Regions from separate parts of the Homo sapiens genome. Here region 2 is linked to region 1. Evidence: fine-mapped expression QTL. A gene starts in region 1. The other region holds a variant in brackets. All regions are shown on one strand. Distances are between the middles of the regions.

Region 1 (15,521 bases):
TAATCTATAGGATTATCATGAGAGTCCTTCTCAAACTTTCCTTGCATTCAACTAGAGAATCTCTCCAAGTAATTCCCTATCTATCAGTATAGAATTCCTGTCAGTAACATTAAAAAGCTTGGTTTAATTCTTAGTGAACTACTCTTAGTGGACTAAGAACTATGAGTGAACTAAGTTTTCTCAGAACACCAAGCACTAGGCAAGGGTTTTACCTGTCCTCTTCACTGCTGTGCACGTAGAAGAGTGTCAGTGCACATTCAATGTACAATGGTGGAATGAATGCCCAAAAGATAAAATGCAAACTCCTTCAGTGGCTCTGGCGAGATTAAACTGCTTTCAGTTCACCTCATTCACCACACTCCATTCCCCATCCTGCCCCAATTCCTACTCATTGTTCAGATCTCTGCAAACACTTAATTTCCTCCAAGAAGTCTGACCATCAAAAAGGCCCCACTGATGAGTTCACAAGGCAACCCATATTTCCCCCACTCAATGACTTAAAAGTACCTAAAGTCACTAGTAAACAATCAAGATGTTAGTCAAATTAATGAATAAATGAATGAGTTCCTTTTTAACATGATCTGATAGACTTAAACCCTTGTGATCCTATTGTCTTCCAGAAATGACTTTAAGAACCACTTGTGTCATTACTGGCTCTTGGGGAAGCTCCATCTCATTCAGGACTCGAGCCTCATGAACATTTTTTTTCTCACAGTCCCCTTCAGCATAGCACAGAAGGAACACAGGTTCTAGAGGTTTCCTGACCTAGACTCAAATTTTGGCTCCTCTCAAGTTAATTGTACAAGCTCTTTATTATTATTATTATTTTCAGAGACAGGGTCTCACTCTGTCACCCAGGCTACAGTGAAACCTGGATGCAATCAGAGTGGTGCAATTATAGCTCACTGCAGCCTCAAACTCCTGGGCTCAAAAGATCCTCCCACTTCAGCCTCCTGAGTAGCTGAGACCACAAGTGTGCGCCATCACACCCTAATTGTTTTTATTTTTATTTTTAGTAGAGACAAGGTCTTGCTATGTTGCCCAGGCTGGTCTCAAACTCCTTGGCTCAAGTGATCATCCCATGTCAGTCTCCCAAGTGCTGAGATTACAGCATAAGCCACTATTCCTGGCCCCTATCTTTTAATTTAAAAAAAAAAAAAAATCTGCCTCCTTAAAGTCTAGAGTGAAAATCTAATATCTCTGGCTACAATGTTCCTCTCCCAGGATCCCAAAACAACCCATTTGCAAACCACCTCCCTTTTCTTGGTGAGAATTAAATCCACTCTACTGGTGCTCGCAGTCACAGCAATTTCTTTCACTCTCTGGGAGACACACAGCATGGCGAGTCAGGAATGGGACAAACACTCTGCTTTCAGAAAATGAGGGCTCTTAGGGAGACGTCAATAGTTGAAGGGCTCCATCATTACTACTATCTGGGCTTTGCTTAGTTTATTACCTGAGACAAAAAGAACTCATACCTGATTCTTCTACCTGGCAAGGCAAACTGTAGTTTTTCCTCAAAATGGAATCCTTTTGGCCCTCTACTCTTCTTCCCTCATCCTTATAACTTACGGTTTGCTGCAAAGGACGCCATCTAGTATGAGAGAAAGAGAGAAAGATGTGGCTGGAGAGAATGCTTCCACTCAAGCTTCTTCCTGGTGGGCTTGGCTTAGCGAGGCTTGAGGAATGAGCCACGTGTGTGAAACAACTCTCTAATATTAGGCACCCACCTCTATGGTGGAACAGTGGCAGGAGTGACACAGTCATGATGGAAGGATAACAGTTTCCAAAGAGGCAAACAATCTTTGGCTTCTCTGAAATACTGTGAAGCCTCTGCTAGGTGAGACTTCCTACAGAGAGTTCTCAGGAAGAGGAAGGAGTGAATTGCTAAGGCTTCCTTCAGCCACAGGTCTTATTTCTGCTTCAGGACTACAGTGAACCTCTCTCTTCTTCCTTCTCTATACCCTGAGGGCCTCTGCTCCCCAAAGCACAAATGTCTTCTGATTCTTTAGTCTCCTTAACCAGGGTGATGATTTGGGGTGAGTGAATTCCATCCCAATGTCCCAGTGTTTTGGGGAAGTAAATTTCCCAAAGACAAAGCCACTAATTGGGTCGGCACGAAACTCCAAAGTGTTGCAGGATAGGTCCTTTCACGGGTCATGTTGTGATCTGCGGGGTAGGCGTTCAGTTCCAGCATTGCTACTAACTGCATGACCTTGAGAAAGTCACTTTTTCTCAGGGAAGTGATGGCCCAGGTCCTTTCCAGTTTTGATACTCTATGTGATCTTACAAAATGCAAGAACAAGCTGGGAGAGGTGGCTCATGCCCGTAATCCCAACACTTTGGGAGGCCGAGGTGGGAGGATCACTTGAGACCAGAAGTTCGAGATCAGTCTAGGCAACATAGTGAAATCCTGTCTCAACAGAAAAAGAAAAAAAAAAAAGGCAAGAATAGTCCCTCAAGTTTCATTTTATAAAACAGATGCAAAATAAAGCAGATATGAAAATACCAAAACAAGAAATCTGCCTTAATTTCCCCAGGATCCTCCAAGTCCCAAACCTTCTATTAGTGTTGCTCAGAAGGCAGCAATATGACTTGATCAGATTATCCCACATCTCTTCCTTCCTTGGAAGGTAGACATAGAAATAAAAATGCATAGAAAAGCAGATGAGGCCCAGAAAAATTTATTATGCCTACATGCCCATGAGATGTCCCAGGCTGGTGACGTCTCATGGGCATTCAAGGAATCCATTAAGAATGAATTCTGAGGCTGGACATGGTGACTCACACCTGTAATCCTGGCCCTTTGGGAGGCTGAGGCAGGTGGATCACCTGAGGTCAGGAGTTCGAGACCAGCCTGGCCAACATGGTGAAACCCTGTCTCTACTAAAAATACAAAAAATTAGCCAGGCATGGTGGCACACGCCTATAATCCCAGCTACTCGGGAGGCTGAAGCACAAGAATCCCTTGAACCTGGGAGACGGAGGTTGCAGGGAGCTGAGATGACACCACTGCACTCCAGTCTGGGTGACAGGGTGAGACTCTGTCTCAAAAAAAAAAAATGAATTCTGAGGCTGGACATAGTGGCTCATGCCTATAATCCTAACCCTTTGGGAGGCCAAGGCAGGAGGTTCCTTTGAGGCCAGGAGTTTGAGACCAGCCTGGGCAACATACTGAGACCCCATCTCTACAAAAACTTAAAAAATTAGCCACATGTAGTGGTGCATGCCTATAGTCCAAGCTACTCAGGGTGGGGACTGAGGTCGAAGGATCACTTGAGCCCACTGCACTCCAGCCTAGGCAACAGGGAGAGACCCTGTCTCAAGAACAAACAAAAAGAATGAACTCCACAATTTTGCTGTCCCTTTCTGTTCTCCCAAGACCCAATATCTCTCTGAGTAGCACTGAGGCTATGAACACAGGGTAAGGAGTGAGACTGCTTGCTTCAAATCCCACCTCTATCATTTACTAGCTGGCTGACATCAGTGAGTGTTAGTGATTACATTACTTGCCAGCTCAGCATTATCCTCTCTATAGGCAGTAGCCAGCCTTTGGAAGGTGTTTATCCCTCCTCAATTCCTACAAATATCATGAGGCATCCTTTCCTTCTCTCCCAGTTCCCATCCTGCCAACACTATTTAAAGAAAAATACCCAAGGAATACAGCAGTTACCTTGGTATTGTCACACTACTCTTTCCTTAGCAAGAAAGAAAAGGTCCCAAAACATTCCCTACTCCATGTGGCCCTCAGATCCCACCCTATCCCCATCCCTCACAGATCTCCCTCCCTTATGTGGGAGGCTAAACCCAGTAAGAATAATCATTTGTAAAGTACTCTGTAGTTTTCAGGGTACTTTTGCACACATGATTCTGTTTAGTTCTTGGTAAGCAGCATTTCATTATTAATCCTGTGAGCCATGGCTACTCCCCCACCTCCATTTTACAAATATACAAACTAAATCTTAGGTCCACAAATTGTCTGTGCTCACATAGCTAAAAAGAAAGTCACACCAAGACACTGTTTTCTCTACTACTTCACATTATGATGTCCAAGTTCACATCCTGGGAACATGAGGAGCCTGAACCTTATAGCTAGTTACAAGCCCCTAAAAGGAACAGAGACCTCATTTTTCTACCCACTGGTCCAGGCCAGGGCCATCCCAGCTGAAGCACCACAGACATGATATAGATGCAAAGCACCAGGCACAGGAGGAGTGGGGACACCACCAAGCGGGGACCAAAGGCCCACGAGGGTATAGAGTATCTGCCAGAGCATACTAGGTCATGACAAAGACCAAAGGCATTCCAGACCACCAAGGAAGTCCAAAGGAGCTCCCCCAGAAACAGCCCAAGTCCCCAGATAAACTGACCCTTCCTCACCCAGCACACCCCCTTGGCCCTTTCTCACTCATGCTTCCAGTGGAGAAGGAAATAGACAAGCAGCCGGGTCTGAGAGCTTGATCAGATTCAGCCATACACACTCAGCAGTAAGCTCAGAGCCATGGCAATCAAACCTCAGGCTCACCCAAAGGCCAAAGGAGAAGCAGCCACAGCCTGGGTCTAGGGCTCCAGCTCAGAGCCACCATCTCTTCAGATGCTGGCTGCCAAGCAGAGCTATAAAATGTGCCTCGACTTAATTTTTCCATGGACACAACCTCAAGATGGGCCAGCCAGACTCTGGAGGAGCTGGGATTCCAAAGTCTCACTGCCTGTCTGCTCTGGGATCGGCAGCTGGAGTTGGGGAGAGGGAAGTATTTGGGGGTCGGCATTGCCACCTCCTGGGCCATTTCTCTTCCTAATATCTTCCCAAAGCCTGATGCAGCAACAGAGTAAGTTTTCATTCAGCACTGATTCAGGGTTGGAATTTAGTACAAATTGCTTACATCTGCCTGGCCATATCCCAAATAGGTAGTTTAGAGCAAGGAGGAGGGGCAGCATTGGCCCACTTCTTGGAGCCCGGGTAGCCGCCTGCTAAAGAATCTGGTGCCATGCTGGGACCAGCCAGCCCAGGGTACAAAACTCTCCAACAGAGTTGAGAAAAAACAGCCCAAGAGAGCTGCCAGAGACAATACAGCGATTCCATCCCAGGCATGATTGGAAGGGCTGGGGCAGGGAAGCTACGAAGACCCCAGAAGCGGGTGGAGAGGAGAAAAGGCAGGCCTGAAGGAGCAAGAGCAATGGCAGAAAACACACACACACACACACACACACACACACTTCAACATCAGCCAACTAGGGTGTGTGCACTAACCTCATACATTTGGTAACCTCTTCCCACAATCCAGAAGCCTGCCAAGCCCCTGGGCTCCCCACCCTACTCCACCCCACACCAGCTTGGCAGCCTTGCTTGTGCTTCCTGCTGCGATTGCTCCTCCAACATCAAAGTCACCGCTGTCGGGAGCTGAAAATGAGGGACAAGTATAGGCCAGGAGAGCAGCGCCTTCTCCCAGCACCGGCGAACTCAGGCCTGAGGGTCCCTCTCCCTCTTTCAAGCTTTCAGTCTCCTTTTGCTGCAGTATCCTTATAAGGGAGAATCCAATTCTACCCTCCGCCCGACTAAGAAACGTACACATTCCCCAGGCTAGATGCCGACTTCTCACCCAGTCCACAGAAGGCACTAACCCCATCACAGGACAGGTTTTGCTTTTTTTATTTCTTATCTTAAATAAACAAACCCCAAAGCCATTGACTGGTTCAGATCGCCCTGCAGCTGGGAGCCAGGAAGTGTGTTTAGCGAGAAGGGGGTGGGGACGCGGGTGCCTGGAGCCCCAGAGGCCCTGAAGCTGCTGGAGTGGAGTGGAGTGGGGTGAGGGGCAACCTGCTCTGCCCGGCGGGCAGGAGCTCAGGCTCCCACGGCGTCCGCCGCTCAGCCCGCCGCCAGGAACCCTCGGCTGCTTCCATTGTTGCACCTCCGCTGTTGCCATGTTGGAGGGAGAGCCCCCTGACCTCGGCTGCCTCCACTCTGGGGGCACTTTACAGACGCTGGGGCCGATGCAACCCGCAGGATGCGTGTCCTACCTGCGCTAGCTGCTGGCTCTGCTGCAACATCCGACGTGTCTTGTGCCTGGCGACGTGGGCTGCTCGCTCCGCGCCTCCCGGGCTCGCTCTGCGGCTCCAGGCGCCTCTTGCACCAGCGCGAGAGGAGCTGGCCGGCCGCACGCCGCCTGCTCCCGGGCCGCTCCCCTCTCCAGGCTCCGCACAGACCCTAGGCTCCAAGGGGCAGAGGGAGAGGCAGCAAAGGGCGCAAGGACCAGCTTGTGGGGGTGGGGAGGGGTGCTCTCCGCCGAGAGCGTGCGCGAGCTCGCAGAGTCAGGCCACCCCGGGTGAGACAATAGCGGCAGCAGCGGGCGAGAGAGGGGAAGCCATCTCCCGGACACCCGGCGCACTGCACGGCGACGCGACGCTCGGCCAGACCCTGCCTGGACAGGCAGGCACCCGGCCGCCGGCTCCAGCCGCAGCGCCGAATCCGCCGCGAGCCGGAGGGCGGGGCGGCTGCTGGAACCCGGGCCGCCCTTCGCCTCTCCCCTCCCCTTCCCCCTCCTCTTCTCTTCTCCTCTCCTCCTCTCCCCTCCGACTCCCGCCCCACTTGCCATTGCGTGGGGGAAGAGAAACGCGCTGGCGTCAAGTTGTGCTCTGCAACCCAAGAGCCAGGATTTCCACTCCCCACTTGGGTGAGGGTTTTTGCGGATGGTCGTTAGTTTCCCCTGCTGGAACCCCTTGGCTTTGGGTCAGAGGAAAGCTCAATCATTCTGCTAGAAATGACGGTGCTGAGGTCCAGTTATCCGTTTCAGGAATTTCTACCATAATTACGGTAGCGATGTTCGGGGGATCCCCTACCTTGAGGGTTAGGTTGGGGTAGAGAGAGGCTGTCTCCGGGCTTTACACGCTCAGTGTCATTCGTCTTTCTGTCTCCTTCCTTCCTCCCTTTCTGGAAGGGGAGTCTCGTTTGTTTTTGTATTCGCCCAGGTGGATCTTCCGAGCTGCGATCCAGGAAACAGCAGTCAACCTAAGTAGGGAGGGGAGATAGAGGATCCTCCAACCCAACTAGGGTAGTGAGAAAAAAAAGTAAAAAAAAAAAACCTTTCATACAATATGTTATATTTAAATTTTCTACTCTAAATACCTTTCTTCCAGCAGTGGTCTCTGGAAGAATTTTCCTAAAGGCTCCACCCAAAAGAAACCATGAGTTGGCCAGCTCCTCGTTTGCATTTGGTTTGCATAGTACCAACGATCACTAATCTCAAAGTATATTTTCCTAAAAACGTGAATCGTGTTTTCCTCCACTGCCCTCATTTCTTCTTTCTTTCTCGACAGACTATGAAGATTAACACCTGGTCCTCAGCCTCTCAAGTAAAACCATGATTAAATAAATTTGTTATGCTTTTCTCTGGTTAACTTGTCTTTTGTTATAGAAGTGTCGGCTGTGACTCTTATGATGGGGAGGAAAGGGATCACTCCCCTTTCTGATCCTACAGTGCCTTCTGTACCCAATGCTTGTGACTTTCAGTATTCCACTTCACCCTCTGAATATCAAGAATAGCGTCCTCACCTATCACGCTTTCGTAATGATCAAAGGAGAGAATGTAGGTGAAACATCTTGATAATTAACTGAAGGCAGCTTGGTCTGCACATATGTCATAATGTATATGATGCTACTCCTGATCTCAGGAGCCACAGGGGTTAAAAAACGTGTCCGTGCACTTCTTCACCATACAAATATTTATGACAGCTTACTCTGTGTCTGTCATCAGGTCAAGCTCAGGAGCCTGAGAGAACAGAGTGTTACAGGGGCCACTGGTGGTTCTTTTTTTTTTTTTTTTTTTTGAGACGGAGTCTTGCTCTGTCGCCCAGGCTGGAGTGCAGTGGCGTGATCTCGGCTCGCTGCAAGCTCTGCCTCCCGGGTTCACGCCATTCTTCTGGCCCAGCCTCCGGAGTAGCTGGGACTACAGGCGCCCGCCACTATGCCCAGCTAATTTTTTCTTTTTTTTTTTTTTTTTTTTTGTATTTTTAGTAGAGACAGGGTTTCACCGTGTTAGCCAGGATGGTCTCGATCTCCTGACCTTGTGTTCCACCCACCTCGGCCTCCCAAAGTGCTGGGATTACAGGCGTGAGCCACCGCGCCCGGCGACCACTGGTGGTTCTATGCTGCTGGGGTGAAAAGTCTGAAGGAAAGAACTAACAGGAAGTAGGCATAGGTAGCTGAGTGGAGGATCAGATCACAGGCTTTATCATGCATTTTGGTAAGGAAAAAATTGAATAAAGAGAAACCAGGGCATGCCAAAAAGTTTAGGTGCTGTAGGTGACAGAGAACCTGCTGTGCACAAATGGAACTGGGAAGTAGTGTGACCAGAAAAAGACTTCCTGGCATATTATAGAGAAGGATTTGGAAGATGCACTGCATGTCTTCCGTTTGCCCCTCCAGATCTTCCTGGCCCTCTGGCTTCCTAGACTGGGTTGGCCAATGGGGGCCATGGCTGAAGATTGAATAAGGAGGGAGGTCAGGGGAAACTGGATATTTATTCTTCAGGATTCCTCTCTTTGGGGTCACAGTGCGCTGGCTGCCACCCTCAACCAAAGATCACAGCTTCCACGGGTGGTTCTCTCTCCCCTCCCTCTCTCTTTTGTTTTTCTTTTTTTCTTTTTCTTGAGACCGAGTCTCACTCTATTGCCCAGGCTGGAGTGCAGTGGCTTACTGCAACCTCTGCCTCCCGGGTGCAAGCGATTCTCCTGCCTCAGCCTCCTGAGTAGCTGGGACTACAGGCGCATGCCACCATGCCCGGCCAAATTTTTTTTGTATTTTTAGTAGAGACAGGGTTTCACTTTGTTAGCCAGGATGGTCTCAATCTCCTGACCTCATGATCCACCCTCCTCAGCCTCCCAAAGTGCTGGGATTACAGGCGTGAGCCACAGTGCCAGCCCCCTCCCTCTCTCTTGATTCAGGTAATCACTCCCCTCCTTTGACTTTTCGGGCCTGGGGGTGGAAACATTGATTTGCTACTGGCCCTAGTAGATTGTACACTATTTCTTGTGGTTTTCCTGTACTCCGCCGACCCTTTATAAATTGTCCCCTTATTTTTTAACCTCTCCTCAAATTACCCCTCAAGTGCAGTGTGCCATTTGCTTTCTGCCAGGACCTAGTAACACAAGTCAGGAGTGCAGCCTGGGAGCTCAACAGAGAAACCATGGCTACGTTCCAGGTGGGAAATCAGGGAATCTCAAAACTGTGCCAGAGCTGTGGCAGTGGGGATGAAAAAAACGGAGCAGATACAAAAGATACTTATAAAGAGAAATCAATAGTATTTGATAAATATATAAAATGTAGGAAATTAGGGAAGAGGAGGACTCTGGAATTACTCCCCATTTGAAGCCTTAGAAATTGTTGGCAGGTGGTACCATTCCCTAAGTTAGGGACAATTAGAAAGACAGGGCCCAGGTGTTGGCAGAGGGATCTTGAGCTTAATTTTGAACATGTTGGGTTTGAGGTATCTGTGGAATGTCTAGATGGGGATGTCTAGTAGACAGCAAACTTATGAAACTAAACTCATATTGGGGTGTGAACAAGTGATAGCAGCTTTGGATTCTGTAGGTTATGGGTAGTCAGTGAAGTTATAAGCCTGTATGAGGTCGTCCAGATGGGCATAAGGAGGAAAGAAGAAACAACCAGAGAGGTAAGAGAAAAACTGGAGGCCACAGAGTGTCAGAAACTAGGGTGGGAGAATCTCAGAAGAGAATGACTGGATAACCAGTGCAGCAGGAACCTCCAGGAGGGTAGGCTAGAAAATGCCTCCAGTGGATTCTAGGCCTAATTCATTCCCTGATTCAAAGCTGGTGCTCAATAAATTATTGGTCACTAAGTGAATGAATGAACCTGGATCTGGAATAAAAGACACATGCTTTTTCTAGAAGCTTGGCAATTTAAGACAAGGAGAAATATAAGGCAGTGGGTAGAGGGGAATGCAGGATCAAAGGGGAGACTTTTGTTTTTTCTTTTTAGGATAAGAAAGGCTTAAGCATTTTCATATGCTGAAGAGTAAGACCAAGGAGAGCGAGATCATGAATAGGAGGGAGTTGGGACCCAGGTATATGGGGTGGAGCTGCCTCTGATATCTTTGAGAGGAAGGCTGTACAAAAGCAGAGGCATCTGTAGACTGGTAAAGAGACTAGAACTTGAGACTAGATGTTGAGAGGACTAGTTGCTGCCTTGTAGTCTCTAAGCAATCTGCTGAGAGAGAAAGGCTCAAGATGAGGTTAAAGGCTTAAAGAAAGTGGTTAAGGTTGCTGGGCACGGTGGCTCACGCCTATAATCCCAGAACTTTGGGAGGCCGAGGTGGACGCATCACCTAAGGTCGGGAGTTCCAGACTAGCCTGACCAACATGGAGAAACCCCGTCTCTACTAAAGATACAAAAATAGCTGGGCGTGGTGGCGCATGCCTGTAATACCAGCTACTCGGGAAGCTAAGGCAGGAGAATCGCTTGAACCAGGGAGGCAGAGGTTGCGGTGAGCCGAGATCGCGCCATTGTACTCCAGGCTGGGCAACAAGAGTGAAACTCCATCTCAAAAAAAAAAAGTGGTTAAGGTTAAAATAGAAAGGAATAAGGAATGAGAGTGGTAGCTCCAGAGAGAGGAGAGAGAGAGAGAATTGTCAGCAGAGTTGAAGATACAGCTGGCATTGGATACTCTAATATGTTGTGGCTATGAATAAAAACATCCGAATGTTTTCATCATTTTCTTCTGCAGCACTTGGAAGCCCAGGTGTAGAACATGAGGTCAGGTTTCCAAGATAGGTACAGTAGAGGCATAAAAGGAAAAGAGGGCTCCTGACAAAAGAGGAAGTCCTCAAGGACGGAAGTGAAGCTCAGCAAAGGCTGTGAATCTTCAAGAAGCGGGAGGAAAGGGACTGAGCTACCTCTAATCTTATTCCCCTTCCAATCTTTTCTCAAGTAACCCAGCCAGGGTGATGTTTCCAAAGCAAACATCTGCTTCTCCTGCTTAAAATCAACTAACATGTAGGACATGGCATTTTTTGACTTTGGTTTTTAAACATCTGTATTCTCAGAGCCTAGAACAATGCCTGGCACTTGTGCTCACAAAATTTTTGGCAGATGAATTAATGCATGACTTTCTCTAACTCTTAAAGTCCAATCTCCTAAGGAAACTCTGAATTCTCTCACAGTCAGCCCTTGCTTTTCATTCTAGCCTCAGAGAACAAGGACTTTGTCTTGTGCATCCCTGCATCTCCCAAACTGCACCCACCACATAGTATTCAATAAATATGTATTGAATGAATAGCCTCCCACATTCCAATGTAAACTTCATACTTGGGCCTTACGAAACTCCCTACAGTTCCTAGAATGCACAATATTCTCACCTAACGGCCCTTCCACATGGTTTCCTGGAAAGGGCCTCCTACCTCCAATCCCCACCTCTACCCGCTTCCTTTTATGCAGCTGTCTCTCTACATGGTAGGCAGAATAATGGCCTCCCAAAGGAGGAAATGTCCACTTCCTAATCCCTGGAACCTATGGCTGCATTATTTTACAAGGCAAAAGGATTTTACGGATGTGATTAAGTTAAGGCCCTTGGGAGTGGAAGATTAGCCTGGATTATCCAGGTGGGCCCAATCTAATTACGTCAGTCCTTAAAAGCTGCAAACCTTTCCTAGCCGAAGTCAGGGAGAGATGTGATGACGCAAGACTGGTTGGAAAAATGCAACATTGCTGGCTTGAAAGTTGAAGCATGGAGGTCCTGAGCTGGAGGGGGTGAATGGCCTCTAGAAACTGGAAAGGTCAAAAAACAGATCCTGCCCTAGAGCCTCCAGGAAGGAACATGACCCTGCAGATACTTGATTTTAGCCCAGTGAACCCCATGTTGGGCTTTTGATCTGCAGAACTGTAGGATAATAAATTTGTGTTCCTTTAATCCACTAAATTTGTGGTCATTTGTTATAGCAGCAATAACAAACTAATACATCCTACAACAAATTCTCTGCAAAGTTTCCCTAGAGTGCCTCCTAAGAGTGTCTAGACACACCCAATAGCTACTTGGATTATAACACTGATCATGGGTGTTATATATAATTGCTTGTCCACTTTTTTCTGAATTGGGGAGGGGACAGAAGAGGAGGGCAACGGACTGTAAGCGCCTTAAAGACAAGGAATCTCCATTATTTTTACCTTTGAATTTCTAGGCCTAATTCATTGCCTCATTCAAAGCTGGTGCTCAATAAATTCTTGGTCAATAAGTGAATGGATGAAAACCTGGATCTAGTTTACAGGAAGACAGAGTGACTGAGCCAGAAAATGAAAAGCTTGAGAGTCTAAGATTTCAGTGGTGACCGGGTGTGATGGCTCATGCCTGTAACCCTGGCACTATGGGAGGCCTAGGCTGGTGGATTGCTTGAGCCCAGGGGTTCAAGACCAGCCTGGGCAATATGGCAAAACCTCATCTCTACAAAAAACACAAAAAATTAGCTGGGCATGGTGGTGTGTACCTGTACTACCAGCTACCCAGGAGGCTGAGGTGGGAGGATCACCTGAGTCCAGGAGGTCGAGGCTGCAGTGAGCCATGATGGTACAACTGCATGCCAACCTGGGCAACAGAGTTGAGGTCCTATCTTAAAAAAAAAAAAGATTTCAGTGGTAATAATAAGTAGATTACTGGTGAGGGAGCAAATGGCTGAAATCAATGGAAGGAGATGATGGTAGAATCTGTTTATCTGTGCTATATTCTCTCATAGGTCTGCTCTAGGCTAGGACTAATCTGTAATACAACTCAAAACTAATATTTTGAAAGACAGTATTTATAACAATTTTATTTTAAAATCCTTCAGTAGGCTTTCTTCAAAAATATTCAAATATCTTTGAAAGATGATTGGATGTTAGAGATGGGGTGGGGTGCTCTGTAAATATTTTATGTATAGATTGACTTCTTCAATCCTTTGACTCTTACTGGCTTTGAAATCAGTCCTACTTCTTCCCTACACCTTTTCAATGATCCATGACATTTGAGGGCTGCATTGTTTAGGGAGTATTTATTCCAGTATCTGAGCTCTTGATGCTATGTAAGATTCTTGGGCTCAGCCAGGCATGGTGGTTCATGCCTATAATTCCAACAGTTTGTGAGGCTGAAGCAGGAGGATCCCTTGAGCTAAGGGAGTATAAAAGTAGCCTGGGCAACATACCAAGACCCCATCTCTACGAAAACATTTTTAAAAAAAATTCACCAGGCATGGTGGTGCATGCCTGTAGTCCCAGCTACTCTGGAGGCAGAAGTGAGAGAATCACTTGAGCCAGGAGATTGAGGTCACAGTAAGCTATGATTGCAACACTGTCTCAAAACAAACAAACAAACAAAAACAACCTGTACTATACATCTTCTTAGTACCTTGTGATGGTGTCAGCTCCAAAGACTCTATGCACTATACTGTGGCGATAGAAGACTGGGCCCCAGAGTAGGTAGCTACGACTTGGTGTTGGTTTGGGGAACTCTGGGAAGGAAGGGTCCACAACTTTCCCCCTCTGTGCCTAGCTCACTGCTGTGGAAACAGTGGGTAATCAGATTGATGGTGATTTTTTTCCAAAGGCAGTAATTCTGATGAGAAGGAGGGTAAAAAACATCCCTTTAAAGATTATTATAGTAGGGATCAACAAAATGAAAAGGCAACATACAGAACGGGAGAAAATATTTGCAAACCATATATCTGATCAGGGATTAACATACAAAATATATAAGGAACTCATAAAACTCAATAGCAAAACAAAACAAAAACAAATAACCAGAATTTTGTTTGAATGTGCAAAGGACTTCAATCAACATTTTCCCAGAGAAGACATACAAATGACCCACAGGTATATGAAAAGGTGCTCGACATCATTAATCATCAGAGAAGTGTAAGGCAAAACCATAACGAGATATCACCTCACACCTGGTAGTGTGGCTACTCTCAAAAAGTCAAAAGATTACAAGTGATGTCGAGGGTGTGGAGAAAAGGGATCTTTGTACACTGTTGGTGGGAATGTAAACTGGTACAGCCATATGGAAAACAGTATGGAGTTTCCTTTAAAATATTAAAAATAGAACTACTGTAAGAACCAGCAATCCCACTTCTGGGAATATATCCAAAGGAAATGAAATCAGTATGTTAAAGAGAGATCTGTGCTTCCATGTTCATCGCAGCATTATTCACAATTGACAAGATGTGGAATCAGCAGAAGTATCTGTCTACAGGTGACTGGATAAAAAATATGGGGTCCGGGTGCGGTGGCTCATGCCTGTTATCCCAGCACTTTGGGAGGCCGAGGTGGGCAGATCACCTGAGGTCAGGAGTTCAAGACCAGTCTGGCCAAAATGATGATGAAACCCTGTCTCATTAAAAATACAAAAATTAGCTGGGCGTGGTGGCAGGCGCCTGTAGTCCCAGTTGCTTGGGAAGCTGAGGCAGGAAAATCACTTGAAACCAGGAGGCAGAGGATGAGGTTGCAGTGAGCTGAGACCATGCCACTGCACTCCAGCCTGGACAACAAGGGTGAAACTCCATCTAAAGAAAAAAAAAAAAGAAACAAAGAAAGAAAATGTGATACATAAGGAAATCCTGCCATTTGCGACAACATGGACAAATCTGGAGGACTTTATGCTAAGTGAAATAAGCTAGAAACAGAAAGACAAATACTATATTATTTCACTTATATGTGGAATCCAAAAAAGTTAAACTCATAGAAACAGCAGAATGATTACCATGGGGCTGGCAGGTGAGGGAAACAAATAGATCTTGATCAAACAGTACAAATTTTCAGTCGTAAGATGAATAAATTTCGGGGATCTAACATACAGTACAGTGACTATAGTTATTAATAATGTATGGTGTACTTGAAATTTGCTAAGAGTGTAATCTCAAGTGTTCTCACCACACCACACGCACACAGTTTAAAAATAGTGGGAGAAATTAAATTTAAGAACTAGGAGAATCACCAAATATATAGAATCTGTGAGTTTAGCCTGCCCTCTAGTGGGAAAATTAAGTTCAACAGTCTGCATAAAGAAGCTTCAAGAAGCACTCCAGGAAGATTTTATGCTAAAGTACAAGATGGCACTTGTGGTGTTTTTGATGCAACATAAATGAAGCAAACAGATTCATTTCATGCTATTTCGGGTGGACTTTGCAATGTTAACAAGCCGATCTTTCAATAGCTCACCATTGCCTGTAGGATAAAATCGTTTGCCTTAGCCTGATGGAAGTGTAGTCTCCAATGTGACCTTACTCCTCTGTATCTCCTTCTGCTCCAACAAGATTAAGTTATTCCCCATTCTCTAAATACACCTTGCAGTCCCCACATTCCTTCCAGATTTCCTGTTTTCCTCCCTACTGTGCCTAGCTCACTGCTGTGGAAGCAGTGGGTAATGAGTAAGCAAATTTTAGATTGATTAATCCCATTCAGTTTAATTTTAAACAGCAGGTTTTGTTATCCCGGAAGAAAGGGAGTGTGATGTAACAAAGCCTTGGGGAGGAAAAAACTTGAAGAC
Region 2 (15,521 bases), 39 kb before region 1:
GTCCTGTGCCACCAGAACCGCTCAGTGGCTCTTGGTTACATCAATAGTCCTGGTCACCAGTTCTGTGCTTGGGGATCCTCTGGACTTCACCAGTGAGCCCCACATGGCCAACTCTCCCAAGGCGCACTGGCCAGTGCAGCAGCCAGGCCCCTTTCTCTGTCCCCCTCCTCCCCTTCCAAGGCCAAGAAGCTGTACCCTGGGGCTCACATACTGCCTGAAGTTGAAGAGTGGGGTAGTGACCCAGCCCAGGGCTTCAGGCACCCGCCGCTGCTTATTGGCCTCTGAGGAGCTCCCCGGTGGGGGGATGGGCAGAGCATAGAGAGTGGCACACAGCAGTGTCTCCCGAGGCAGCCGGTTCACCTGCACTGGGAAGCAGATCCTATGGAGGACAGGAAGTCAAATTAGGAGGGGCCACTCCTGTGGCTTCAAGCAACAGGTGGCCCAGGAAGTCAGGCTGAGGCTGAGGCTGAGGATACAGCCTCCCTCTCAGGGTTCAGACATACTCCCTGAGGAAGCCCTCCTCCTGCAGAACCAGGAGAGGTCCCAAACTAGGCAAAACCCCCACTGGATGTTCCCAGAAGCACAATGTGGTGTCCTTGGAGCTTTGCAGTAGAGTGAGGCGAACATCCCGATTTTGAAGCTACCCGTGGTGCCTGGACAGAACTTGCTTAGCAGAGCCACCTCGGAGTTCAGGTGATGACACGTCCCATGTTGTCAGCCTTGCTCCTTTCCTTGTTTTAGGATTTCCGCAGAGGGTCCGCAAAGCTACTCCTTTTGTCCTCCTTTTCCATTTGACAGTCTCCATCCCTCCCCCACTTCTTGCTGCTGAGAGCCACCAGGAAGAAGCACCATGTTCTCTGCCCTCGGTTCACCCTCCCCCACAGCCCTCTCACTTGTCCTCATAGGAGTCCCCTTCACCTAGCCCCAGGGACACACACTGGGTTTTTCTCACCCCCACCCCCAAACAGCTTCAAAGCCAAAGGGACAAAGAGGAGGGGTTTCTCCAAGTACCCCAGTGGTGAGAAAGCCAATGGCAGGGCCAAGAGAACTGAGACACATAAGCCCCACCACTATTCAAGCCCATAAGTTCTCTCCAGGTCCCTCAGTCTGAATCACACCTAGCCACTCCCTCTAAGCTCAGGATAAGGAACTGCTGGGTGGGGTGAAGTACACAGGGGAGGGGAGCTGTGGAAAGGCAGGGAGGACCCACGTTACCTTTCGGGGAAGCTGTCCCTGGGCCAAAGTCCATACTGTCACACCCTCCTGGCCAGCCCAGGGCCCAGCAACTTCTATGCCAGAGGGCGCAGAGGCAGGGCGGCCACCCCCAAGGTTGGCAGTTTCATGATAAAGCAGCCTGCCTCCACCGCTGTCCTCCAGAGGAATCTCCACCTAAGTGAGGCACTCCCTCCAGCCCACCACAGACTGGCAGAGCCCTGCTCTGTCCCAGCTGCCTCTACCCTGGGGGCCCACAGCTATAATTAGGGCCCCTCCAGCAGCCAGCAGACATGCCAGGCCAGGGCTTGGCTGGAGGTGACAAAGCACGGCTGCTGAGCCTATTTTGAGAGTTAGCTGATCCCTGGACCGCTACAGTGGGGCAGAGAATCAGCTGACCCCATAGCAAAGGGGAGAGGGAGCTGGTCCTGAGCCCTTTCTTTTCACCCAAGGAAGAAGCTTCCAGCTTCGTGTCTTAAGGAAAAGGGGAGTGAGAAGACTTTATGAGTGAAACCAGAGCCAGCCAAGGCCCTCTTCCCTTCAGTCCTTGGGTATATCTGGTATTCCACAACCTCTCCCACAGATCTTCACCCAGGGCTGGTCAGGATAACCATTATGTTGGCTGCAGCCCTTACCTTCCTCCCTGAGAAGCCCCTCTCCTTCCTGCAGCCCATTCAACAACCTCATATCACACAGGCTGCCTCCTCCAGGAAGGATTCCTGGAATGTGCTGGTTGGCTCCAGTCCCGGTTCTGCCACTCACAATCCTGGGCAACTTAATTCCCATCTCTGTGCCTCAGTTTCTCATCAGGGAAAAGGGGAACATAGCTTCACTTGCATGATGTGTGTGCAGACTGTGTACTTTTTGCTATGTGATGCTGTGGTTACTGCACTGGCACTGGCTTATACAGATAGTATTTTCATGCGCACGTATCCCCATGTATCAGCCAGTCTGTCAGTCACTTGGAACAGAGAAACCAAAACCAAGAGGGCTCCCCAGCTAAGAAGCCTGTGCCAAGTACTTTATTTACAGTGTCCTAACTGCTCCTCAAACAATCCTGTAGGGTAGGCCCTATTATCGCTACCATTCTAGGTTGAAAGACCTGCCCCAGGCTGCAACTACAGTAGGAAGGAGAGAATGACTGGCCCAAAGACTGTCCTCTGAACGCTGGCACGCCTTCCCCCAAATGTCCTGGTCTTGACCATGAAGGGCCAAGAAGTCTCATTCGGGGCTTCTGGATGGACAGTGCAAGATAGTGCCCTTCACAAGGCGCTAGGCAGGGGACTGCCCCTTTAAAATTCAAGGTGGGGATCTCAGGGAACAAAATGAAACTCATGGGGCAGGCTGGGCTGCCTCTCTACCTCTGATACTGTATGAGTAAAGGGTTTAAGGCCAATTTTTTAAAGTTCCTCCTGGGCCAGAACACTGTGCAGCACCCTTTTTTTTTTTTTTTTTTTTTTTTTGAGACAGGGTCTCGCTCTGTTGCCGAGGCTGGATACTCACTGCAGCCTTGACCTCCCAGGCTCAAGTGATTCTCCCACCTCAGCCTCCTAAGTAGCTGGAACCACAGGTGTATGCCACCACACTTGGCTAATTTTTTGTATTTTTTGTAGAGATTGGGTCTCCCTTGTTGCCCAGGCTGGCACCCCTTCTCTTGACAGCAGCAGTAATTGTGACCAAAAAATCCCAAGGGAATGGTGGAACTCAAGGGCCATTTAATGCAGCTATCCTCTGCCTGCAAGGAGTTTCTCCTGTCCTGGCAGTTGTTTGCTTGAGGACCTTTAATGCACACCCCATGTCCTTTTTTTTTTTTTTTTTTTTTAAGATAGGGTCTCACTCTGTTGCCCAGGCTATAGTGCAGTGGTGTGATCATGGCTCACTGCAGCCTCGACCTCCCAGGCTCAAGTGACTCTCCCACCTCAGCCTCTTAAGTAGCTAGGACTACAGATGCACGCCACCACACTCAGCTCATTTAAAATAATTTTTTAGTAGAGATAAGGCCTCTTTGTGTTGCCCAGGCTGGTCTCAAATTCCTGATCTCAAGTGATTATCCCGCCTTGTCCTCCCAAAGTACGGTGAGACTACAGGTGTGAGCCATCGTGCCCAGCCATATACACCTTTATTGCTCTAAGAATTACCTAAGTGTGAAGGGCATGAGAAAGGGTCCATTTTCCCAGTTGTCCATCTGTAAAAGGACCCACCTCTTCCAGCATCTCCAGATTCTTCATCTACCTATTTTGCATCCTCGGCCTCCCCAGGACCCTCCTCAGTCTCTTTAATCTGTGCTACAAATACTTAGCTTGCAGTGCTGCTCTGCAAATGAGGACTCTAATATAGTCAGTGTGGGGAAGCAAAGCCGGGGGCAGCAAACAGGGGATTTTCTGACTGACTGGAAGGAAGGTAGAGCATAGCACAGATGAAGCACAGGGCAGGAAAACCCCTGCGGTGCCCCCATTCAAGCAAGGCACCCTCTCCTCCGTTTCCTTCCTGCTTTGCTTGGCTGACGCCTACCTTCCCGACACCAAATTATTGTTTACATGTGGTGATTAATATTACCTTGTGCTTTTGGTTTCATATTTATATTTATAACCCACCTATCTCATCTCGACGCCATAACTGCCTCTGAGTGAAACCAATGTCCCCATTTCTCAGTTTGAAAAAATGAGGCACAGAAAGAATAGAGAGAAAGTAGTATTCGAGACAGAGCTAGAAATAGAGGCTCACTCCTGGGAATCCAAGCTCAATATTCTTTCTCTAGACAACCCTCCCTTCTCTATATATAAAGGGAAAAGCACAGTCTCCTCTCCATAGTCTACAGGAACTGAGGGAAGAAGGGAGAGGATGAGAAGCCCTCCAACTAGTTAAACTCTTTAAGGGAGACAAGATCAAAAAATAAAGTATTATTAAAATTAACAACTAACATTTAATTTTTTTTTTTTTGAGACAGAATTTCGCTCTTGTTGCCCAGGCTGGAGTGCAATGGCACGATCTCAGCTCACTACAACCTCCACCTCCCGGGTTCAAGCGATTCTCCTGCCTCAGCCTCCCTAGTAGCTGGGATTACAGGCATGCGCCACCATGCCCGGCTATTTTGTATTTTTTTTAGTAGAGACGAGGTTTCTCCATGTTGGTCAGGCTGGTCTTGAACTCCCTGCCTCAGGTGATCCGCCCGCCTCGGCCTCCCAAAGCGCTGGGATTACAAGCGTAAGCCACCGCGCCTGGTCAACAACTAAAATTTATATGTTTTTTATGGTTTACAAAGAGCCTTTATAGATACTTCTCATTGGATCCTCATGACAACTTGAGAAGTGGTAATTATACTTGGCTCCTTTAAGAGTCAGGGAAGTGGAGGCCAGGCGTGGTGGCTCACGCCTGTAATCCCAGCACTCTGGGAGGCCGAGGCGGGCAGATCACGAGGTCAGGAGATCGAGACTATCCTAGCTAACACATGGAAACCCCATCTCTGCTAAAAATACAAAAAATTAGCTGGGCGTGGTGGCGGGCGCCTGTAGTCCCAGCTACTCGGGAGGCTGAGACAGAAGAATGGCGTGAACCCAGGAGGCAGAGCTTGCAGTGAGCCGAGATCGCACCACTGCACTCCAGCTTGGGCAACAAAGCGAGGCTGCCTCTCAAAAAAAAAAAAAAAAAAAGAGTCAGGGAAGTGGAGACTCAAGAGGTTGAATGACTTGTCCAGTTAGGGTTAACAAGGAGCCTGGTTTTATCATTAGTCCTGGACTAGTTATCTGGCCCCAGGGATATTTCAGAGGCTGAGCAGGTCTACAGTGGCCTGGGCACTGAAGCCTGGGGGAAGGGCTTACTGCTGGTCCCAGACGATGAGGTGGAAGAGGTACTTGGAGAAGTGAGCTCTTCGGGTCTGCAGGGGGCTGCACAGCTCCTTGCCGCCATGGCTGAGGGAGCAGGAGAGGTAGAAATCTTCATAGCTATAAAAGAAAGGGAGCAGGTCAGGACACCCAGCTCCCAAAACCAATCACCCAAACCTATGCGTCCCTCTAAGGCCAAAATCCATTTCCCCTGGTAAAACTCTCAGTCTCTGAGGGCTGTAACACAGGATCTCCGGATAGGACAGCCAAACTGGATGTAAGGAAATGTGCTCAGGCCAAAGCAACTCAATCTAGATTCCTCTGCTCGGTTTTAGGCTCCATTCTGAGCCTTGTTGTTTTTCTTCCTTTAATGGGAACTGGCCACCCAGCCTCTTTATAGAAAGCTCCAGCCCATGGAGCGTCTGTGTGTGCGTGCGTGTGTGCGCGTGCACGTGCATGCGCAAGTGAGAAGGGTGGGGGAGGAAGACGACATATGCCGACATGAATGCCAACACACGGGGGTCCCTGTGGCTCATGACAGGTGCCTGACAGAAGAGGTCAGAGAAGGCCCCGGTTTCCCAGGCTGCCTCCTTTGTTCTCTGCCAATCGCCCAGAGGAATACATTAAGTAAGGAACAAAGAGAGAAGGGGAAGGGGGTTGGGGAAAGGGGACCGGCAGGGGCGGGGTAGGGCCCAGTGCCTATTCCCTCAGGCCTTGGATGCTGGGGACCCAACAGAGGCGCTGAGGATTTTACCAAAAGAACATCCTCCTCCACCCACCCCTGCAGGCCTAGAGAACCCCAGACAAAGGGTCAATCCCACCTCCCCACCCCCTCCCACTGGCCAGGGAGCGTGCACTCTATCTGGGAATCGGCCATCTGTTGCCATGTCTCCTTCCACTGGTCTTGGATCTGGAGGGGGCAGGGATGCAGAGGCAGCCAGCACCAAGAGGGAATAACAGGATCTTCTTCATCTCCTAAGGGACCTCCTCTCTCCTCTAGGATGTCCCCAGCCCAAGTCCTCCTCAGGCACTTGGCTCACCCCCGCAGCCCCATTGCACCACAATGTCACACAATGCCACACATCCTAAGACTTAGGACAGTGGTATTACATGCAGATAGGAAAAAGCCCTGGTGGAGGTCAAACTCAGCTTGCTCCCTAGCGGCTACTCAGCCCTGGGCTCACCTGGTAGCCCAGATGATGGGGATGCGGTGGGTGGCATAGACAGTGAAGGCCAGGGACCTGGCGAAATGGCAGGCCTCCTGGACCAGGTCATGCTTGCGGCTCCCGGGCACTGCCGTCTGGAAGTCTGCGTTGAATGTGTTGCAGTACAGCTCCACCAGGTCCAAGATGGCAGCGGTCAGGGCTTCCACGACCTTCTCTGGGAAGGGAAGGGGTCAGAAGGGAAAGTCATGAGGCCTCCACAAGCCCTACCTTGTTGCCATGGCATTGGCTAGAATGGGATGGCCTAAGACAGTGGTCCCCAAATGCTAGTCAGTCTCTAATAGCTGTGACAAAGTTCACCCATCTGCGGTAAAATGAGAAAAAAGCAGAAGCATGTCATGAGCTTTTCATAAAATGACAGTTATACAATGTTAAACATAATCCTTATTTTTACGTATTGCTACTTAGCATTAAAATGTCCTTTCTTTTAGGAAACAGTGTTAATAATTATTGTCAGTTGCTTCAAAAAAGCAAAAGTCAAAAAAGTTTGGCCAAGTAAAAGGCTGCCAATTCTCTCTTGGTCCCCCAAATACTTTGGGGGACATTTTACTGGTCTATGAAATCCAAAAGACTGGGAATCACCATAAGAATCCCAGGGATGCCAAAACAAAAAACAAAACCAAAACAAAGGAATCCCAGGGATATAGGTCAGTCTTAGGGCAAAGTTCAGCTTGAAGGGCACAACAGGGGAATCCTAGAAAAATCGTAGGGAAAATTCTTTCTCATCCTCTCCCAAGGCCCACTCTAAATCGGAAAGGTAGCAAGTGTGAGCTGTTGGGAGAATAATCACAATCTACCCAAGT[G/A]GGAGGCTTCCCATCTGGATCACAGGGCTAGTGCTGCCCCACCACCCCACTCCCACACTTCTACCCCCTCATCATCATCTCCCAGGGACACCAGGAGGAATGACTAGGAAAAATAATAAGAAAACACTTTGTGGAAAGAAATGTGCTCTCCAGCTGTATCCACACCTCATATAGGAACACACACACACACACACACACACACACACACACCCACACACACACACACACCAGCCGAACTCCGACACATAAATCAAGGGGCCCAGGCAGAAAAAGGAATCGGGGCAGAGACTGCAGTTTTCGGCAGCCCGACTGGATGAAGATGGAGAGCAGTTCCCTTACCTCGGTTTTCCCTCACAGCCAAGACACTGGGATCCTGTTGGGAAAAAGAAGAGGGAGGGGAGCTTCAGGGCCATAGCCTTTTTCGTCACAGCTGGAAGAAGGGCTTTTCACAGCTGCGCTCATCTGGACCAGAATGGGCTGAAATGTGAGTAGCTGAGAATCCCCAGAGAGGAGAGAGTAATGGTTTGTACCAGATCTGTATGATGGACAGAGTGAGCTGACGGAGGATAGCAATCATCGGGTCCACCCTTCTGAGATATCCCAACCCTCAGGCTACTCGGCTGCAGATCACAGTGCCTATGGTGCTGGCCCTGTCTGCAGAGCACACAGCCCCTGCTGGAGTCCTGGAGCCCCTGGCTCTAGAGAGATTTTCCTCCTGGTTTGTTTTTGCACCCTGATGGATATGCAGACTGTCAGGCAATGCCTTGGTGACTGTGAATAAAGCCTTTACTGGCCTGGGCTCTCAACAAGCAGTCCCAGGTAGCTCTCCCTCAACCTCAGGAAGAGGAGACACACTTGGCATCCATTTCTGAAGAGCTCTTGCGGTTGAATTCCTTAAACATAAAAGATGGAGGTGGAGAGAAGCCCCTTTTTAGTGAGTGAACACCTACACACTCTAGCAACAGGCAACTCAGTTACCTGACAGTATCCCTCTCTTCCTTTCCCCTGCTAGCACCCTGGGCCCCTTTACCTTCTGAATTTTAGGCTGCATGCGGGAGGGGCAGGGGGGCAGCTGGTTGAGAGCACTGGTGATCTCAGGGGTTTCCACGGCGGCCAGGGCGTTGCAGATGGCCTTGACGGACTGGACCACCCTGTCAGCCTTCAGTGGGAAGTCTCCCTGTGGGAGGTGGCACAGTGAGGCTGGCAGGCTCTGCTCTCATGCTCTTGGTCTCCAACCCCTCCCCACCCCAGTCTTTAAAGGAAAGGGTTGGGAAGAGTAGAGAGATTCATGATCCTCAGGGGTAAATGTGCAATACATTTTATTTTCAAATATTCATCATCAGCAAATAATCTCTCCCACTGAATTCAATGGGCCATGCCCACATGCCCCAATTCTTTCAGCCGTTCCCCTTGAAGCTCCTCCTATCTCTAGCCTCTCTCTATAGTTAGTCTACTTATACTATACACATATATACAGGGTCTCTCCCAGAGACCTGTAGAATTTCCAGACAGATCTCATCTCATTTCTACAGACATGCCACAGCCATAACCTCCCCTCTGGAATTATGCTCCTGGAATTCCCTCACCTGTCCAGCTCTGATTACCTATGTACATTTAAATCACAGAGCAGCTAAAATTCTACCTCCTGCATAAAGCCCTCCCTGGCCAATCCCCTTCCTCTAGCATCCTCCAGGAGCCCTTAATTAATTTATTACCATCCTGTTCTGTCTACTAATAGCTTTGTGTTACTATTCAATTTTTCTAACAAGAACACAAGCTCCCCAAAGGCTATGACAATTTTTTTTTTTTTTTTTGAGACGGAGTCTTGCTCTGTCACCCAGGCTAGAGTGCAATGGCGCGATCTCGGCTCACTGCAACCTCTGCCTCCCGGGTTCAAGCAATTCTCTTGCTTCAGCCTCCTGAATAGCTGGGATTACAGGCGCCTGCAACCACACCCAGTTAATTTTTGTATTTTTAGTAGAGATGGGGCTTCACCATGTTGGCCAGGCTGGTCTCGAACTCCTGACCTCAGGTGACCCGCCCACCTCAGCCTCCCAAAGTGCTGGGATTACAGGCGTGAGCCACCGCACCTGGCCAAGGCTATGACGATTCTTACACTTCTCTACCCATCGTAGCCACTAGCAAAGGGCCAGAACAGCACAGCACAGGTGTTCAGAGAGCTTCCCCCGCATCACTGGAAATGTTCAAGCACAGGCTGCTGGAGAAGGGATTCTGGCAGTGACTAGACATAATGCTGAACCCCTCAAAAAGGAAGCGTTTATGACTACTATTAACTGGATCAATGAGACAGGGATTGGTTTTTGTTTTGTTTTTTGAGATAGGGTCTCACTCTGTCACGCAGGCTGGAGTGCAATGGTGTGATCATAGCTCACTACACAGCCCCAAACTCCTGGGCTCAAGCGATCCTCCCACCTCAGCCTCCAGAGTAGCTGGGGCTACAGGTGTGTGCCACCATACCTGGCTAACTTTTGTATTTTTTGTAGAGATGGGGTCTTGCTGTGTTGCCCAGGCTGGCCTTGAACTTTGGGGTTCAAGCAATTCTCCCACCTCAGTTTCCCAAAGGGTTAGGATTACAGGCGTGGGCCATCACACTCAGCAAGGGATTATTTTTGAAGATCACTGTCAGATTTTCTTTGGCGTTGTGACATTTAAGACAAATGTTGACTCTCATGGTTTTGAGGCTTGAGACTCCGCATGAATCCAAGTGGGGAGGGCTCTGGCCCTCCCTACATGTGAAACCTTCTACCTCCTGATGGTTTCCTACCTGCGATAACAGCAAAACAGAACCTCTCAAACTGGAGGTTTCTGACATTGCTCATAGGATGCATGCTCCAGTGTACATCAAGTGCAGCAGCTGGGGGGTGACAGCTCTAGGTTCCTTAGCTCTGGAGACATCCTATTCCAGAGAATGGGACCAGCATGCAGTTTCCGACCTGCTTCTTCTATAGAGGAGCAGAATCCCTGACTACGCACTTGCCGTTGCCCAACATCTAGTAGTCTTAGTTTGCCCATGAGCGAGGGGTTAAAAAGAAGTGCTCTGCCAACAGATTTTCAGGCTCCACCCAGACCCCTCATAGTGCTGGGTGATCCCAGGAGGACTGAGGAAGGGGAGAGGAGGAGCTTTCGGGCAGCAGGGCCAGCCCCTGGATTCGTACTCACATCAGCCAGCAGGAAGGCATCCACCTCATTGTGGTAAGTGTCGAACAGAAGACTCAGGGCCTGCCTGGGAGTTGGGGGCAGGGAAAAACCACAGGAGAGGTCATGAAAGACCCAGTGCCCTGGGAAACCCATTTTCTCCCTCCCTCTCCTCAGCTCACACTCTGATTTAAAGGAGTTCCCACTCTTTCTATATGTCCTGTGAAGACATATAGAGGGAGAGTCTTTCTATTCTGCCACTTCTCGCCTGGAGAGAATGATGGCAAAGTTCCAGAGGGAAGAAATGAAACATGCCTGGAGTGGGGATCTTCTCTGATAAGATGTGTGGGCCCCAACCCCTGACACCTGCAAGAATCCCTTAGCCCTGACAGAAAGGCAAGCAGGCACATCTGATGGGATCCCTGCACAGTTCTTGTTTGGAGCACATCCAAGATGGTGCCCACACTCACCTGCTGATGGTCTGCTTGACAGGCCTCTCTTGGAGATGGACGAGGTAGTTCAAGGTGGAGGGGCTCTGGTCATCATTCACCTGTATAAGAAGTGACCTATTCAGAGAGGGGCGGTGCCCTTATCTCAGCTCAGCACTCCTACCCCCCTCCCACCTGATGTGTTCTATATTGTATTCCCATTCCACCTCCCCAGCCCTGGGCAACCCTCCACCACCCTCACACGAACCGTCCGGGCCAGGTCACTGCGCACAACCTTCTGCTCCATCAGCTGTAGCCGAATGTCAATGTCAAACTTGCGGCAGTATTGGATGTACTCATGACTGCCCAAGGCATGCTTGCTGGTAGGGTAGAGGGACAAGACCATTAGCATCCTGGGGACTCAGTGGCAAGGGAGATACATACCTTAGCCTTGGGGAGAGACATACAGAAAGAAGGTTTAGGTAAGGGGGTAGTACCCGTGTTGTACCCTACTTTGGCTCCTAGAAAATGACACGGTAGAGCTTAGGAGAAGGAACAGAGGTCTATCTAAACAAAAGCCACCTAATATACTTAATCCTTGGCCGGTATAAATATTGACTCTCTTAGATATTTATTACCCGTGTGGTAATCACTGGTTCACTCCAGGGCTGGGAACTGTTGGAGAGAGCGGGGAAACAGAGGCACATCACAGGGAGCAGTTGCTGAAGCCCTATCTTCTGGGCCTCTGTATAGGGGACAACCAGGAAGAGACATGTTGGAGTCCACCTGTGCTCAGGCTCCAGGGTGGGAGCTCAGCGAGAGACCCCTCTTCCAATGCTACCAACTAGGGTGCTGAGGCCAAAAAAACTTGGGGCAAGCCTACCAAGCCTCCAGATCAGTGTCCCCACCCAACTTCTTTTTCTGCCTTCCATCTGTTGGCCCTGCCTGCTTGTGAATAACCTTACAAATTTCTATGACTTCTTGAAAAGTCCCAAATGCATGCCAGTCCCACCTGCTCAAGCACCCATGTGTGAGACTCCCCCTTTCAGAGAGAAGGCCTAGGAGCCCTCGGCGATCCAACCTCTTCCTCTCTCCCAAATCACACCTTCAACAGCAAGGAAACCCAAGAGGAGGGGCAGAGGGAGAACTACCTCCAGGCCAGCACTGCAGGCCTGGGCCTGGCCTCAGCAGCTGGGTAACAGAAGCCGGAAAAGGACTTCCTTCCTCAGCAGAGCTGGGAATCTAGGCCAGAAATGGAGAGGAGAGGACAGGAGCATAAGGGGGGCAGTATATGTAAAAGCTGGCGGAGGTGCAGGGCCCAGGGTCGTCTAGGTCCCATGAGGGCTCGAGTGAGGGGTTCTCCACATCCTGAGAGGACCAAATCTCCGATCTAGACCCTCTCAGATCTAAGACTGAAGTGCAGCCAAAACCTGGAGGTGGTGAGGCTGGGCTGTGGGGCTGGGCCTGGTGGGAGAGCCTGGGAGGAAGGAAGAGTGTGGTGGGGCTGGGGGAGGTGGCAGGAAACCCAACCCTCCCACGGGACTGCCTCAAGGTTCTTATCTGAGAGCAGCCTGCATCCTGAACCCACTCACCCCCTCAGTATCAGCCCCTCCTGCCAGGCAGGGGTAGAAAATCTCAGGGCTTCCTTGGGAACTAGCAGATTTCTGGAACCCCCGGAGCGTCCTTTCCACCCCCATCCCAGGCAGTTGTCATGTGTTGGGGGTCTGGGGGCTGGGCCAGGAGACAGCATTGTGCTTTTCTGTTGGGTGGGAGTGGGGCTCCTAGGCCAGGAGTCATGCACACAGGTCCCCTGGGGACTTGCTTGATCTTCTCTGTGGAAGGCCTTCCTCTCTGTGCATTCAAGTGAGAGTATGAGGGGTGTGATCTGAGGACCGCTGACCCTGTCCCACCTCACTAAGAATATTTCACCTGAGTCTTAGCAGGAAGGTAGAACTTGACAGCTCCCACTACCTCCGGACCCAGGGGCTCCAGGATTTGGGGTGCTGCAAGGGAAATGGCAGTATCTGTGCAGCCCAGAGCCCTAGGACTTCTCTCCGTGGGCTGCTCCTTCCCTGCTGGTATTTACTGATTGCTCACAGGTCATTCTCACATTTCACCCTCACTGCAGCTTACAGAGGGCCCTGAGCATCAATCAGCCTTCACAACTAGTAAGTGGCAAGTCCGAATTCAAACCTGTGTAATGGCGTCAGCAGGAGCTCCAACTTATCCACTATGTCCCCTTTTTCCCTTCTAACAGTGGCAGGCCACCTGGCACTCTCTCTGCCAGGCAACCCTGAGTCTAGGACCCCTCCTGTTCCTCTAGGGGAAAAGTGTGTACATAAGTGAGTTTAAAGGTGGGGCACATTTGAAGGGTACCCTGGAGTTGTACCATACAGAACCCTGCCTCTTTCCTTTCCCTTAGCTTCGAGATGAGGAGGCAGAGGCCAGAAAGGACCCCACAATATCCTTAAATTTGAAATAAGCCCAGATAGCTGGGCACAGTGGCTCACACCTGTAATCCCAGCACTTTGGGAGGCCAAGGCGGGCAGATCACCCGAGGTCAGGAGTTCGAGACCAGCCTGGCCAACATGGTGAAACCCAGTCTCTATTAAAAAATACAAAAATTAGCCGGGCGTGGTGGTGCTTATGCCTGTAATCCCAGCTACTCAGGAGGCTGAGGCATGAGAATCGCTTGAGCCTGGGAGACGGAGGTTGCAGTGAGCTGAGTGAGATGGCGCCACAGCACTCCAGCCTGCACGACAGAGTGAGACTCTGTCTCAAAAAAAGAAAGAAGTCCAGAAATGAATCTTCCATCCTGACTGCCAAATCTTATGCTCTAGACATAGATCAACCATCCTTGCATCTAGACCTGAATGTAAGAGAGAGAAAAAGCAAGCAGTGGCACTTATAGGGCACTCCTAAGAAGTGAGACACAGGTCTCTCCTTTCTCTATTCCCAAAACGTGCTTCCTCCAAGTGGACAGAGACTGGGGGCAGGAGCGGCTCTGAAGCCTAAGAGAGGAAAGCAGATCTTATCTGTCTGCTGTCACACAGCTGTACCATCTGAGAAGTGATAACCTTGCCCCTGCCTCTCTTCCACTGCAGCCCTCCAGAGCCCAGGGTAGTGGAAAGGGGGTTGCCTCAGCTGGTCCACATCAGACTTTCCAGGGAGGCTGCTTTCCAGAGAGGGCACTGGATGGAGAGGAGCTGGAGGCACGCCTTTGGGAGGAGGATAACTAGCTGCACGGGCCAGCTGGGGAAAAGACTTGTTGGCAGGAGAATGGGGAGAGACAGTAATTGTAATTTCTCCCCTGGGCTCCACAAGGGAACTTCTGCCCAGTCCTCATTTTGCCCCAGCCATAAAAACACCACACATAATCTAGAGCAGGAGATACAGCACTACCCATATAGTCTCCCCAAGCCCACCCCTCCCCACAAATACACACATCTCTCCATAAGCAGAATCTGCAAGCAGATATGACCTAGTCTTTGCCTAATCCCAGCTCCAAGCTCTTTCCACAGCAGACTTGGCTCAGGACGTCAGCCAACCCTGCTGGAAGACAGAGCTCCTGGGGAAAGTGCTACGTGGCCGAGAGTGTGCCCAGAAAGCAGGAGTCTTGACTGTGGGATTGGGGCGGAGCTGCCAGGCCGGTCCCAGCACCAATCCCATGAAGCCCCCTCACAATCTTACTACCAGGAAGGCAGGGGCTACCTCCCACCCATTCACTCACTTCTGCAGGAACTCCTCCAGCCCGCAGGGCTTTAGCACAAAGTCACCCACGTCCACATTCCTCAGGTCATCATGGGTGTAGCACAGGGTCTGGTAGATAAGCAAGTCTACAGTGGAGGAACCTGTGAAGGGTAAGGTAGGGGGAGCAATCATGATGGATGTCAAGGCAGATGGGTCTCAGTTTCCCCACCCTGATCCCCCTTTCCAGCTAAGTATTCTCCAGCACCATCACCAACCAGATAAAGCAGGCAAGTAGTTCAGAGTTGAGGAAAGTGACTGTACTAGAATGCTGGCCCCATAGCCAGCCCCTCACCCCCAAAGGAGCATCCTCACTGCCCTTCATCTGGGCCACAAGATGAGGTGGAAATCGAGTCAAAACACAGTCATCCCCACCCCACTTCAAGGGATGCTCACATCCTCTCCCCCCTCACTAACTTACAGTTGCAGGTGAAAGTGAGTGCCTCTTGAAGCCTGTCACACAACACAGTCACCTTCAGGTTGACCTCATCCCCGAGGTGCTCTGGGCTAGGGGTGACAGCACTCCAGACATAGCCAGTGAGGAAGTAGTCTTGGATGTCAGAGCCAGATCGAAGGCTGTACAGGAAGAAAAAAAACCCTCACTGTGCCTTTAGAAGAGAGTAGTCAAGAAGACATCTGTTGGGAACCTCATGCTCTGAGGCTCAAGAGCCCCTCTGTCCCCACTCAGCCCAGCCCTCCAAATTTGCAGGCCAGGATGGGGGCAGTGGGGTAGCAGCTCTGAGAAACCCCCTTCTTGACACTTCTCTTATAATTGCAAAATGTTTCCCACCATTGAACAGTACAAATAGTTCTAAAATGACAAAGCTTTCCATGCTAAGTTTAATGGAAAATTTTTTATGAATCCATTTCCTTTCTCTTTTAGTTCCAGATAACACTCTTATCGCCAGCTGGGGTGCATTTGCTCTTAAGGGCAACTGAGGGTCAGACTCTAGAGTGATCAGGATACTTTGACCATTCAATGGAGGTTTCATGAATTTTGCTAAAAATGTGAGACTTCTAAGATTTCAAAAACCCTGCAGACACTTGTTGTAGGAAGCATTTTCATAGCTATGAACTGAGATTTACTTATTATGGTGCTTCTTCCCTCCTAAAGAAAGTTTGGAAATGGAT

What was found.
Region 2: its variant is fine-mapped to the expression of PIK3C2B in whole blood (TOPMed, PIP above 0.99).

What each region holds. Positions count from the first base shown.
Region 1 is chr1:204,488,338-204,503,858 of GRCh38, forward strand. PIK3C2B (phosphatidylinositol-4-phosphate 3-kinase catalytic subunit type 2 beta) reads right to left here and starts at 6,468. Exons shown (of 33, transcript NM_001377334.1): 1 at 6,019-6,468. LOC124904584 (translation initiation factor IF-2) reads left to right here and starts at 3,414. Exons shown (of 2, transcript XM_047439554.1): 1 at 3,414-3,424; 2 at 5,839-7,395. The coding sequence starts at 3,414. The coding sequence ends at 6,859. RefSeq lists silencers at 4,509-4,588, 6,148-6,617 and enhancers at 5,658-5,847, 5,918-6,047.
Region 2 is chr1:204,449,639-204,465,159 of GRCh38, forward strand. It overlaps PIK3C2B (phosphatidylinositol-4-phosphate 3-kinase catalytic subunit type 2 beta), which reads right to left. Exons shown (of 33, transcript NM_001377334.1): 4 at 14,812-14,966; 5 at 14,374-14,494; 6 at 10,912-11,023; 7 at 10,686-10,765; 8 at 10,240-10,303; 9 at 8,090-8,236; 10 at 7,399-7,432; 11 at 6,218-6,413; 12 at 5,031-5,153; 13 at 212-379. Among named protein-coding and RNA genes, the nearest start is that of PIK3C2B, 37 kb to the right of the region's middle. RefSeq lists enhancers at 1-335, 3,490-3,599, 5,192-6,169, 7,677-8,178, 8,179-8,678 and silencers at 7,549-7,749, 12,563-12,857. The variant G/A (reference allele first, on the strand shown) is at 7,060.